Linked DNA regions of Homo sapiens. The protein of the gene in region 1 interacts with the protein of each later gene in a biochemical or structural test. Each region holds a gene or a part of one and is shown on either strand. Other genes may lie near its edges.

Region 1 (7,037 bases):
TTTATTTGTCCTGAATTCAGTTAATTTTCCTTCATGCTGTCCTATTTTTTTGACCATTTCTATTCTTAGTTATTAGATTACTACTTCAAAGTACATTTTTTAATACCTTAACATGCTTGTTTGCAGATTTTTTTTGAAGTGTTTTGCTAGCATATTCTTCGGCTTGATCATTCTTTATTGGAGGGAATGTTCATCAAATGCCTTCTTTCTATTCTCATATTCTGATTTTTTTCTATAGTAGCTTGGTATAGATGAAGATTGGTTGCATCTCAGAATTTCTATGAACATGACTGACAGTTTGTAGGTAGCTTCCAAAATTCCAAGCTCAAGAGCATCCTCTTTTCTTTGTGTATCAAAGTATGGTTTCTTTACTGGAGGGCCTTTGGGGGACAGTGGGAGACAGTAGAGGGAGGGGTGATGGGTCCTAATATTTTGACATTTTCTGTACTGTAAGATGATAAATTTCCCCCTCTTGCTTCTTTTTCCTTTCACTGTGCTTTTTTTTTTTCAAGTCACCTCTTGCTTCCTTTTTTACCTTTTTCCACCTCCAAAGAGTTAATTTTCCAAGGCTGCTTTCTTGAGTCTTATGCATACTTTTCAGTACCTTATCTGAAAGCTGACCTTCTAGAGAAACTTTTCAGTATTTTCGTACTTGGGGTAGACTTACTTGCTTGTGGTGGTTTTTTTTTTAAATTTTTTTATGGAGTATTGCTCTGTCGCCCAAGCTAGAGTGCAGTGTTGTGATCTCGAGTTGCTGCAACCTCTGCCTCCCAGGTTCAAGCAATTCTCCTGCCTCAGCCTCCCGAGTAGTTGGGATTACAGGCGCCCACCACCACGCCCGGCTAATTTTTTTGTATTTTCAGCAGAGACTGGGTTTCACCCTGTTAGCCAGGCTGGTTTCAAGCTCCTGACCTCAAGTGATCCGCCAGCCTGGGCCTCCCAAAGTGCTAGGATTACAGGCGTGAGTAACCGCGCCCGGCCACCTGTGGTGGTTTTAGATCAATCTTAGGCTTCCTAATAGCTTTCCTCTAGTTTATTTCATGCTATCTTTCCTGGACTACTCTTCTTCTACGCAACAGCATGGGGTAGAAGTCTAATAGATAGTTCAATGTTATTTCCCATTTGTTTTCCTACTTACAGGTAATTTGAAATTTGAATGTTCTCCACACTTAATGGTGGTATTGTGCAGTTTTATTTGTTTTTTATATTGTTCTTTGTTTATTTGGGCAGGGGAATAGATATGTTAAGAGACTTGGATTTATGCTAATATCATTATTTGGCCACTCACATTTTTTTAAAGGGAGAAGCTGGCGAAACAGACACCACAGAACACAGTATACCTTCTAAATCATAGTTTCACTTCATTCCAGTAATCTTTTCTTAATTTTGGAGCAATAGAGTGGTAAAATGCCCACTGAGCAGATAAAATACTAGTGCTTTAAGGCTAATGCATCATTGAAACTCGATGAAGAATATGAAAAGCATATATTCTGAGAACACTTTATAAAATGCCTATTAAGATAATCTACTGTTGCCATAGGTATAGAACAGGCTACTTAATTTTTACATTACATGAGAGATTATTTTCTAGATGCATTTATTTTCTTTTAGGATTCGACAACTAGATACACTTTCAATATTATTTCTTCTAGTCTAATTCCATTATACACTCCAGGCAACTGGAAGTCTATTTTACTCCTTTGTGAGATAAGCATATTAGCAATTAAATTCAAACTGGGCTCTCCAACTTCCTAGTAAAGATACTTTGTAGAGTTGTATAAACTATTTGATTGTTCATCATAAATATTAGCTAGAAACAAAACCTTAGGTTAAAATGAACAGAATGAAGGGATGGAAGAAAATCAAAAGAAAAATTAAAAACCTCTTTAAAATCAATATATTGAAACTTTCAATGCCTGAATTTTTAAAGTGATGATATGAACTTACACTTATATACTTAGTAATTAATTTTGCTATCTCTTGTCTCTTTGTAATAACACAAATTATAGACTCCATGAACAAGAAGAATAGCTATTATTGAGTGCCTGTTTTGTGTCAACCACTTAGTTTGGCAGCTTTAAAAAAGGATTTCTTAAAATATATTTATTAAAGAGGATGAGCCGGTTTTTCCTTCTTTGTATCAGAGATGGTAGTAGGTATGTGTACTGCCCAGAACACAGGGGTTGAAAGATGTTTCTGTTAATGTCTCATTCAGTACATTGTAAGGCAACTAACTGTTCATTCATTGTTTACAAAGACACTAAGCAAGAGAGCATCTATGTATGATTTTAATATATATAAAATGTATGTTTTGCTTTTGGAAGACTGTTACTGATTTGTTTAATAAATATGATACATACATCCAACTCCTTCTGTCACACGATTTGCTTTTTTCTTTTTCCAAATGTTACAAGTAAAATAATTAACTTTATGAGTGTTTACTATGACACAAATTTATGACATTATACGAGATTGAAAAGTGAATAAAATTGTACTTACCATAAAGGATTGCCAGGAGAGACAGGGGCATGACAAGTAGTCCCACTAGCATATCAGCAATGGCTAGGGACATTAAGAAGTAATTGGTGGCATTGTGCAGTTTCTTTTCCATGCTTACTGCCATGATCACAAGGATGTTGCCACCTATTGTCATGATTATTATGATGACGATTGAAAGTGCTGGCCAGTTTTGTACCCCGTCTGGGAATTTGAAGCGTCCACCATCGGAGGTATTGAAAATGTCAGTTACTATAGCTGCTACTGGGCTCACAGAAATATCAGATTGCCAAACCAATAGGCCAATTAGGTGCACACTGAAAATTAAGAAAAAAAAAAACAATCAGGTACATATTATATTACTTATACACAATACGTTGCTCATGCAAAACAACTGCTTCTTCATGGATCATTGTCATCATTATCATCATCAGCATCATTGTCATCATCATTATTTCTACTCTCTTAATTAATCTCAGTATTTCTTCTTTCTCTCCAAAAATCACCAACTTTTATTGAGTGATTATTATGAGTTAGGCACTTAGTTTGCTGAAACATATATGTATAATCTCATTTGATCTTATTAAACAACCTCATGATGTCAGTTCTAATTTATATCCATCACGTAGATGAGAAGACTGAGTAAAGTTCAGAAAGGGTAAGTAACTTTTTCAAGCCTAAACAGCCAGTAAGTGGCGGGGCCAGGGTCCATACTCAGGTCCCACTGATTTCAAAGTCTATGTTTTAAACTTTTACTGCGATCTGAAACCACAGTACTGCTTGATTTGCTGTAATAGTCTATTCTTTATATTTTTAAAATACTGATTCCTTTAGATATGTTCTGAGACAGCTGATAACAGAATGAAGGGGGATTTTCTTAAAGCATCCATGACCCTAACAAGGAAACTGGAAGTTGCATTCTATTGATCCAAGGCTAAGAAGGAATTAAGTTGCCATCAGATCAAATTCCGGCAAAGCGTCTGGAAGAGGTACAGTGGGTTTTGACAAGAATACCCTTTCATTTCTTTTCAGAAGTTTTTCTACCTTCTCACATTTGCAAAGTGCCATTATGCTGGTTCAATTGTTTCTTAACGTTTTGTGCTATAAACTTTCCTTCTACCTGCCACTCTCCACATTTCTGTCTTGTCTTATATTTTGTGGGCCTTGTTCTAGGCTAGATAATGATTTGTGGTGATGATTAATGCCTATGGATTTGTTACTTTTCATGCACTGGAACTAAATCTCTTAAGTCATTTAAGTACATTAGAAATGTACATTTCTCATGATGGTCCTTTGGTAGATTCTACCAGTAGGAATTTCAGGCCAGGTGGCAGGCTATTGCCAGAGATGGATGTGGTTGTCATTTGCACATTCTAAATTAATATCCCCCTATGGCGACATGAGATTTATTCGAGTTATGTACATAAGTATTCTCTCAAAGTGTAAGCTCCTAAAATGTCTAATAAAGCTACACATTTTTTCCTTCATAAAATAGACAAGACAGCCAAGCATGTTCAATATTTCCTGCTTAAAACTAAGAAATATTACCTGTGAATGAGTGATTTATGTTTATTCCATGTGTAGTAATAGTTATTTAATTAATGTTAAACAGCAACATGAGGATACATTTCCTATATGTAGTGGTTGTTCAACCTTGATATTATTTATAGAGGAGAAAATTGCCTCTGGTTGCACAATATATGCTACATAATTTTCTATGCAAGATAGTTGAAGGATGATTCTTTCTGAAATTAGGGAGATGGAACACATGACATAACATTCAGAGTCTATGTGTTCTCCATATTATGTATTTTTATGTCATTATCCCAGTCACTTGTTCTTTGAACTGAAGATAGTATCTCCAGGCAGGGATAATATATGTGTGATTTAATGGACTCATTGCTGACTACCATTATCAGAGAAATCGTAATTCTTATCAAATGATGAGAAGTAATCAGTAAATTCTTCCAAATGTATTATTTTCCCAAAACATAAAAAATAGGCAAAAATAATACAGGATTCCAAAATCTATGTCATAATTAATCTGTGATTAATATGAGTAAAAATTAGTGAAATAAAGGACCAAATAAACAGAAGCAAGTTATTCGCTCTCAGCTTTGATTACTCTGTCACTGTATTTATTGAATGTGGCATGTGGCCAATGTCCTGGCTATCTGACTTCAGTAATTTTTGACCAGTCACTTAACCTATCAGAACATCAACTTCATCTGTACAAGAACAATCTCCATCATATGGTTGTTGTGAAAATTAAATGATATATGTCAAACTTTAATACCTGTGTCATAAGAGGCCTTCAGTAAATGCTGGAGGTACCTTCTGTCTGCTTTGTAGTTAAACAAAAGCATTTTATGTTTGCTATATCCCAACTCATGTATTTCAAAATTTGCCAGGATAATTTAAGTCTTGATTTTATTTTGAGACGACGTCTATGTGTGAAGAACTGGACTCAAAAAAGTAATCTTAAATCCAGCACGTTTTCCAGAGTCCTTTCTGGCCTAGCTGATAAAAAACTTGTCCTGCTGGCATTTTAAAAAACAATGTTCTGTTTTAAATTAGCTGAAGATCATCTCAAGTAGTCCCACAAGAATTTATCTCAAATACTAAACTGCGTCTTCAGTTGTTGATTGCAGAATGACAAATACATTTATCCTTAAACCTATAGAATAAGGTCCTAGGGGAATATGCAGTCTGCCTCAAATGTTCTAAGTAAATTGTGAAAACATCGAAATTCATTCATATGTCTCTAAAAATGGTAGAGGGGTACAGGACAAATTATATATAACAGAAACATATACGAAGAAAATTATGTCAAATTATGAATTTTATAATTTGAGTATCTTTGAGTTTGGACTGTTTCAAGTAGTTATCTAGCCTATCCCTACTGGTCAGAAAATTTTTTTTTAATAAAAGAATCTGTAAGACAAATACTGAATTATTGAAGGAAGGAGTCTTGTCAGATGTAAACATATCTGTTGTGAATTACAAAATAAGGTAATGGTGTTAGGATAAATCTTGATAAAGTATTTACTTCACTTTCCTGGTTTCAATTAAATTCAGTTTAATAAATTTTTATTGAGCACTACTTATAGACAAGATTTTATGATTTTTATTAAAGTTTAATCCTTTATTCTTCAGTTTTGTAATGAAGAATTGTCTGTATTATAATTAAATCTAATTTTTAATACTTAACATGCTCAGTGAAATTATAAAGTCCTTTTACAAAAGAGGAGTAATTTAGGTCTTGCTCTTAAAGTTTATCCTAATTGTTTTTAAGCTCATAGGAATCTCATAAAATATGTATACAAAAGTCATAATTTCTCTCTGAAATGCATATAATTTACTCATTGCTACTAAAGTTTTAATGAAAACATAACTTTACATTCTTAGTATATAAACAAAATGATAATTTAATTTAAAAAGTTGAATATATTTAAAATCTACTGAGTTTTTCTATGACCTAGGACATTGTTAGAAGACAGGAATTCTTCCTTGTTTCTCTCAATAGAATTTAAAACAATTGTATATGAATTCTTTAATTAATTTCATAGCAGAATAATTTGGTGCCCTTTACGGCAGTCCTACACTTTGGTATATGGGCCAATGGCTATATACTAAGTTGGCACAGGCCCATGGAGCAGGAACACTTGTCCTTTCATTTTCCCATACCCAACTCTTCTTTTCCCTTCTTTATCACTGTCCTTCACTCTTTTCTTTCCCAGTTGTCTGCTCTAGTTCTCTTGGACTCTTCCATACTTGAAACTATCATCACAACAATGACACTCAAGATGGGCCACAGTGATGCACACTGCAGAGGATCCAATGTTGCTGAACTTTATATCTCCACCACATTGTAAACTTTTTCCTGGGTGAGCTCTTTTACAAGAATCATAAAGGAGACTACCTAGGAGCAAGGAGATTTGGGGTTTCTCAACTATACCAATCAGAGTTTACATTGCTTTGGATCATTTTTTTCTATGCTTCGTTCCTCAAAAAGCAGGTTCGGAAGAAACCAACATTTTTCTATGTAAAAAGAAGGTATACCTGGATTAGATCAAATTTAGAATTGCTTATTATTTGAATCTCCTGTATCTTTACCTACACCCTTTATGTTGTATATTATTGGCTGCAACTGGGTCACTGCATCAATACTTCTGAGGATGACATTGGTTTTTCCCATCCAGCTACATCGCCAAGCCCTATCCCCTAACTTCCAACCTTTTCTTTTCCTACCTCAACTATTCTTCACAAAACCAGAGGCATTTCATTCTCTTAACTGTTCAGTTCATGCAAGAAGGAAAAGGACAGAAATTTTTCCTTTCTAAGTTTTACCCATGGAAAAAGTAGCCATGAACATTGAGATTATTTGAATTTAGGGCATTATCACCATATTACTTGTTTAAGTATATGAGCTCAAGTGCTTAATTAGAGTCCAAATTTTTTTTTCCATTAATTATTTTTGAATAGGAAACACCCATAATATTAGTCTTTTGGGAAGCAAGCCATTTATGCAGATTTAGGCA
Region 2 (7,037 bases), on another chromosome or scaffold:
GTTCCTAATCAATGTTTCATGTTGGGTCCCATTAACTTGGATTTCTGAGCTGCCATTTTATTGGAGGTGCCAATTAAATAAAGGGTCATTTGGTCCCCATGACAACAGTGGAACGGTACAGCAAATTAAGAAATCTGGTGGGAGGGGAAGCCCAGAGAAGAGGGGCGAAGAGAGAAAAGAGAAGCCAGAATGGTCTCTATAGCAACGGGAGAGCAGAACCATGATGCTCCTGGGGAAGCAAGGGAAGCTGTGCGCTATTCTAAAACAGAGCAAAAACCCAGAGGGCAGGACCACAGAGGCAAAGGCACAGAAAGAGGCAGCCTGTAAAATGTTCCACCCACCAATAATTATGCCTTGGGAATTAATTATGACCCAAAAAATAAGGTAGGAAGAGTAAGGCAAGTCAATACCTATAATTCTACTCTAGAAATTGATTTCCTGTAACCTGGGGGGACAATAGTCAACCAGTATTGAAGTGGCCAGATGCAGAATGCACACTTTGGATCCCTGTTCCTGAAAGTGTAGCCTGCAGACTGGTGATGCCATCCCCGCCGCAAAGCCTGCCAAAAATGCAGAATTCCACCCTATACCTGCTGAATCAGACCTGCATTCTAACAAGATCCCCAGGTGATTCCAATCAGTTTGAGAAGCACTGATTCATCAGGATGAGAGTTGCTTGTCAAAGTCACTGCAAAGAGCATGGACATACACTGAAACAAATTTGAACACAGCCTTGAAGTGGTCCAGATGCTGCTCTGCAGTGGCCCGAGGGGTGGGGGTAGGGCAGTGTGCACATCTGTCCAGGTGCAGGCAAAAAGGGGTGTGTTTTCTAGAGAATTTTAAAAAGGTGATACGACCCACTGATGTCAGTCTGTATTTGGTACTGGTGATTCTGGCTGTTATCAGTGGTTACACCTCCCACCAGCCAGGGTGGTCCACGGACGGACCATCACATTTCCCCATTCAACAAGCGGCGCACTGTGGCAGGGAGGAAGTTCAGCTGTGCTCTAATCGGGGTCTGCCCTGCTAAGTACTTCTTCACTATGGGTGGCCACGAAAGCACTGCTTTTCTTTTCTTACTCTTCATCTTCATCAGTTACATCTCTTTTATCACCACTCGGCCTTTTAATTTTCTGGTTCTATAGAGATTACATTTATAGACATCAAAGTTCAGCTCCTCAAACAATCCATTTCCCCTTAGGAAACTGTGCAGACAGAGCTCCGTCTGTACTCCAGCAAGCTTTGCTTCCACCTTGATGCTGTGGCAGCTGCAGAGGGAGTCAGGCTGCCCTCATAGCCTCACTGCTTCCCTCCTCTGGTCCCCACGCAGATAAGGAAGGAGCGATTCGCAGGAGGGTGGGGACTCACTGGCCAGCTGGGGGCCCTGGGCAAGTCTCCTGTGCCTTTAGAGTCTCTGATGGCCCATCTGTGCACCTAGCATCTGCTGTCCCCCTTGTGGGCTGTCCTGAGGAGGAAAGGAGGTGACTCCAGGCCATGAGCTGGAGTCTTAAGGGCCTCAGGAAGCGCGGCTTGTTCCTGCCCAGGCCCCATCCCCACCTTTACTTAAGTCCTCCCCTTGTCTGAGTCTGTTCTTAGTCTGCCATGACAAAGTACCACAGACTAGGTGGCTTATAAACAACAGGCATTTATCCCTCACAGTTCTGGAGGCTGGAAGTCTGAGCTCAGCGTACCAGCACTGTCAGGTTCTGGCAAGAGCCCCTTCTGAGTTGCAGATGGCCAACTTCTAGCATCTTCACATACCAAAAGAGAGCTTGCTGGGGTCCCTTTTTTAAGGGCACTAATCCCAACCATGAGGGCTCCACCCTCCTGCTAATCACTTCCTAAAGGCTCCACCTCCAAATAACATCACATTGGGATTAGGGTTTCAATATGTATTTGGAGGGAACACAAATATTACTCAATACTTTACTTAACCCCCTATCCCCGCTCCTCCTCCCCAACCCTTCTAGACTCAGACCAACTCCCCACAAACCATCCCTAACCAGCTTCCCTCTCTCATCGATTTCTCTCTCTTGCATCTGAACTCCTATGCCGCTCAGGCAGTTTCTCAACCTCAGCACTACCTACATTTGGGGCTGGATAACTCTGTGCTGTGGGGCTGTCCTGTGCATTGTAGGATGTTTGACAGTATCCCTGGCCTCTACCCACTGGATGCTGGCAGCACCTTCTCCTCCGTGACAACCCAAACAGTCTCCATACATTTTGGGGGATGAAGATCACCCCTGGCTGAGAAGTACTGCCCCATGGTCTGGCCTTGGGCCTAGCATTTCACCTGACACCCTCCCTGGGATGACTCTGTATTGGAGGCTGTATGACCACAGACGATTACATCATCTTGCTGTGCCTCAGCTTCCTAGCTTGTACAATGGGTACAAAATAGTACCTGCCCACAGAATGCTGCCCCGAAGGCTCAGCAAGTCAGTCCACACATATTCTCAGAGCATCCAGAGCACAGACACACAGCACTGAGCACTGTGAGCCATAAGTCCTTTCACTTCTCCTCAAACCGACCAAGCTCCCTGGGGGGCAGGGACTGTGTCCACGGGGCCCCTGGGTCCCACAGCCCCTCAGCAGTTCTCATGCATGCACCCAAGGTGTTTAATAAGCAACTTGCTCACTGGCAGGAGCGACTTGTGGTCCTGCCTCCCTAGCCCCACCCCCCCGCTTGCCTCTCCATGCAATCACAGCAACACCAGACCAGCCGTTCCGGGCCAGGCTCAGACCCCATCTCTCCCTGACTCAACACCGGCCCCTGTCCATCAATTCAAGCAGAAACTTCCAAACGCCACTTCCCTTTCTGCTACCTACCTAGGTTTTATTCCTTCAAGGTCAACTTTAAAATCACATAAAATTGTCCATCTAATCACTTGTAGCCTCTCACCTTTATGTTGGCCGCAGAGCCCTTGCACGTCTCTAATTATCCTGCACATGCACACTGGCAAGCCAGCTTCCTCAGAGCGCAGCTCAGTGCCTCACAGAGGCCCAATTAAACCTTTCTGAATGAATATCCATGTTCAAAGTTGATTCTCTAATCTTACCTTTAACGTGTATTAAGCAAGAGGTAGAATTTATTTAAGTATAAGATATAAGAAAAAGAAATTAAAGGAGGCCAAAGAGGACTATTTCTTTCCAGATGTGATTATCTTATGTGAAATTAGAATTTACTCCATTTCATTAAAAACAAAAAGTCACCATCCATGTGTCCTATACACTCACCTTCACCTCCCACCCCCACCCCCTTAGCTGAGGAGGCTGGCTTTGTGATTTTTCTTTTGCTCACAATGACTATTTGCACGAATTAATCCCCTTCCTTCTCCCTCTCTCTCACACATGCACATACGCACACAGCTATGTTCCAGCTAAGTCTTTCAGGAAACCCCTACAGGACCCCAAAAAACGCTGTGGAATCTCAGTCTAGCTACAGTACCGCAGCACTTGGTGCAGAGCTACTGGGGTCTACAGATGCCATCATGGAGGAGGAACATCCTGGTCACACTGGCCATGCATTCAGCAAGTCCCAATGTGCTCAAAAAACTCCACATGAATGCTTCATGTCTAAAGAAAATCTCATTTCTTCTCAAGTATTCACATTTAATTTTCCTTTAAGTAGCTCTTCTTAGCTTTATAAGCATCAGTTCAGGTTGAGCAGGAAGTATGCTCAGGTATGAAAAAGCTTCCATGGACTGGAAGAGAGTTTCCTCCTCCTTCTGGCAATGAGCACATGTGAGTTGCTTTACCCGGGGTCTGAGGGAGGACAAACTCACCTGCATCATAGTCAGGGCCACTGGGAAGGAAAAAGCACTCTCAGATTTGAAGCATTTCTGACATTTTTGACAGGGATGGTAAATCATGCCAAGTGTATCTGGCTGACTATAAGTGACTGTCTGGATTCCCAAGCTGAGGCCATTTCTGTTGAGGCTGAGTCTGGGCTTAGTGGGAGAATGCTGTGATTGACTAGTGATGCTGTGATGGACATGCTGCTATCAGAAAGTAGTGTCATGTGAACCAAATACACTTCCCCTAATCTAAATTGATTTCAGGGAAGAATCTGTAAACAGTAACTTGATGGTAAGCTTCCTGAGTGCAAGTCCACGCCTTTTGTGTTTGTGTCTTCCTTGGTGCCTGACACTTTGAATATGTTCATATACATTAATGACTGGATGGGGGTCACACTTCACATCACTTGAGGTTTACCACATCAACTGATTTTTCCCATATTCAGGTACCTTAATAATGCTCTGGCAGGTGGACAGAGGCAGGCCCACCAGGCTGGTGCCATTAATGGACATGATCTGGTCACCGATATTCAGCTTCCCAGATTTCTCCGCAGGGCCACCATGCATCATGTTGGCAATGATCACGGTGGGGAGGATGGATCCCCAGCCAGACTCCACAATCACCACACCTAGGATTTCTCCTTTCTGCTTCTCTATGAAAACCTGGAAGGAGAAAAACATTTAGAAAACCTCCATCAGTGACCATCTGGGGTAGGTAGAAATGAAAGCCTCTCCCCCATTCCTGTCTTGCCTAAAGAAAGACACTTCCCTGGGGACACCAACCCAGATGAGTTCCTGTCTTCTCAGCATTCCGCATATTTGGAGTTTTTAAGAAATGAATTCACACAGGTCTACACTCTTTTGTAATTCACTCGTTTCACATAAGCAAACTTGCCTCAGCACACAACCATGAGGACCACCAGTTTTTTTTTTTTTTTTTTTTTTTTTTAATTTCTTCAGTCCTGTCCTCAGTGGCAGGGGATGAGGCTCTGTGGGTGGGTGGTGTGTTATGGTTTCTAGAAATAGCTTTTCAAATTCCATGCGCAGGTTCCCCCTCCCACAGTGCTTCCCCAATTCGCTCCGACATTTAATTTTCTTGAGTTAAAAATAAATAAACACACAGAAACACTTCTCTGCAAGGAAAAAGTTGAGAAAAAAGAAAAAGTGATGCTGAAGTTATCACAACCAAAAGGCTGGGTGTGCACACAGGAAGTGCATATCCTGGATACACAGACTTTTCACAACCTTCACTGGCAGGGCAGAGAAGACAGGGGTTGATGTTGGATACTTGCACTCTGGGGAGGCCTGCAGATATGCCACTAAAAGGTACCACACCTCTTGGAAGCACCCAACAGAGTGTGTATGTGTATTTTTGGGGGGCTTGACAAAGTCCCCTTCACAGGTTGGTGTCTGCTTCCCCCAGCTGCTGAAGCTTACAGTCAGCCCCTTCCCTGGAGAACTGTCCTTAGCTGAAAGGGAGACACATTCTGTTAAGGTTGAATTGTGTCCCCCCAAAATTTGTATGTTGAATTACCAACCCCCAGTGCCTTTGACTTAGATTGTGACTTTATTTGGAGATAAGGTCTTAGCAGAGGTAACCAATTTTAAATGAGGTGATTAATATGGACTCTAATCCAATATTACTCATGTCCTTATTTAAGAAGAGGAATGGTTGTCTGTCATGGGTATCAAAAAAAAAAAGAGGAAATTTGGACATAGGGACATGCATGGAGAAAGGCTGATGTGAAGACACAGCATGAAGACAGCCATCTACAAGCCAGAGAAAGGCTTGGAACAGATTCTTCTCTCACGGCTCTCAGAAGGAACCAATGCTAACAACACCTTGCTTTTGGACTTCTGGCCACAAGGTCTGTGAGACAATAGGTTTGTGTTGTTGAAGTCACCCAGTCCATGGTACTTTGTGACAACAGCCCTAGTAAATTCATATACCCCCTGTCCAGCCTTGGCCAATAACCGGCATGGGGTACAAAGGCTTGCCAGCTCCCTCGCTCCAAGGTGAGACAAATCTGTCCTGCAATATGTGCCATGGAGCTTCCCTCTGGACAGAAGGAAGCTCATGTCCAAGGGACCACACCCTTACTTGGTGTCCCACCACCAAGCTTCCCACATCCCTTCTGTTCTGAGGCACTCTCCCAACAAACCTCTGTGACAAGAATCCCTGCCTCAGGCTCTGCTTCTGGGGAATCTGACCTAAGACACCTGACAGACCCCAGTGGATCAAATGATCACTTTCTCATTAAAAGTTCTTTTTACCTATGGGATCAAGTCCAAACCCCTCAGCTGGACTTGCAGGCCCTCCAGTTCTGACCCAGATCTCAGGCCCATCTATCTCCTTTCCTGTGCCTACCTCCTGCTCTAGCCAAACCGTATTTCCTCATTCCCTAGACAAATGTGGAGCTTTCTGATCTCCAGGCTTCCAACCATTCCATAGACCCCACCCTCGGCTTGCCCCTACAATCCCCAGATCGCCAGACCAGCTTGGATAGCCTCATCTTCCTACAGGCATTCCTGAATAGCTCAGTTTGAAGCCACAGGCCATCCCCAGAGAAGCACAGCACCTCTTGTCTGAAACTTGAGATCTTCTCTGTTTGTCCAAGTGTAGTTGGTTTTGATTAGTGCCTGTACCTGGCACCATCATTTAACTTTTTCAGTGCCCTTACCTAGATTGCAGTGTTTGTACAAGCAGAGTTCAGGTCCTATCTGCCTCTGGGACCCACCCAAAACTTAGCTCAGGATGACCAGGAGCAGAGGATGTGCTGCCTCTCTGTTTACACCTGTCCACAATAGCATTTCATGACAGGGCCCCACAGCAGGGAGCGAGAGATGGGGGTGAACGACTTCATGATGTCCTGCCAATACGGCACTCCTCACCATTGATCTCCCTTCACTTCCGCGGCAGGGTGCCCCACTTTCCAAGCCCCTGCCCAGCTGACCCAGCCTGGAGAACAGCTTCAGGTAAGTACCCACATCTTTACAGTTTTCCGACTTGGAGAAGTGGATCAGGTCATCGTTGTACATGTCCTGGGTATTGAGCAGGTCACTATACTCCTTCTGGCTGAGATCTTCGGGGTTAATCCCATTGGCCCTGAGGAATTCCTGGTATGCCACGCTAAATGCCTGTCCGATGGACTGTGCAATCAGCTGAGCCTGGAACAGCAGCCAGAGAGGAAAGATGGTCAGCAGGGCAGTGCACCTGGTGAGCGGCCTGGCGCACTTCCC

Evidence for each region.
Region 2: the proteins of HTR2C (region 1) and APBA1 form a complex in vitro, tested with the Homo sapiens proteins (2 studies listed by BioGRID and IntAct, with this or other methods).

Annotation. Positions count from the first base shown.
Region 1 is NC_000023.11:114,727,070-114,734,106, reverse strand, and holds part of HTR2C (5-hydroxytryptamine receptor 2C isoform a precursor), read right to left. Parts: intron 3,486-7,037; exon of another isoform or gene 3,331-3,485; intron 2,814-3,330; coding exon 2,500-2,813; intron 1-2,499. UniProt on the Homo sapiens protein: G-protein coupled receptor for 5-hydroxytryptamine (serotonin).
Region 2 is NC_000009.12:69,445,337-69,452,373, forward strand, and holds part of APBA1 (amyloid-beta A4 precursor protein-binding family A member 1), read right to left. Parts: intron 6,966-7,037; coding exon 6,786-6,965; intron 4,461-6,785; coding exon 4,248-4,460; intron 1-4,247. UniProt on the Homo sapiens protein: Putative function in synaptic vesicle exocytosis by binding to Munc18-1, an essential component of the synaptic vesicle exocytotic machinery. May modulate processing of the amyloid-beta precursor protein (APP) and hence formation of APP-beta.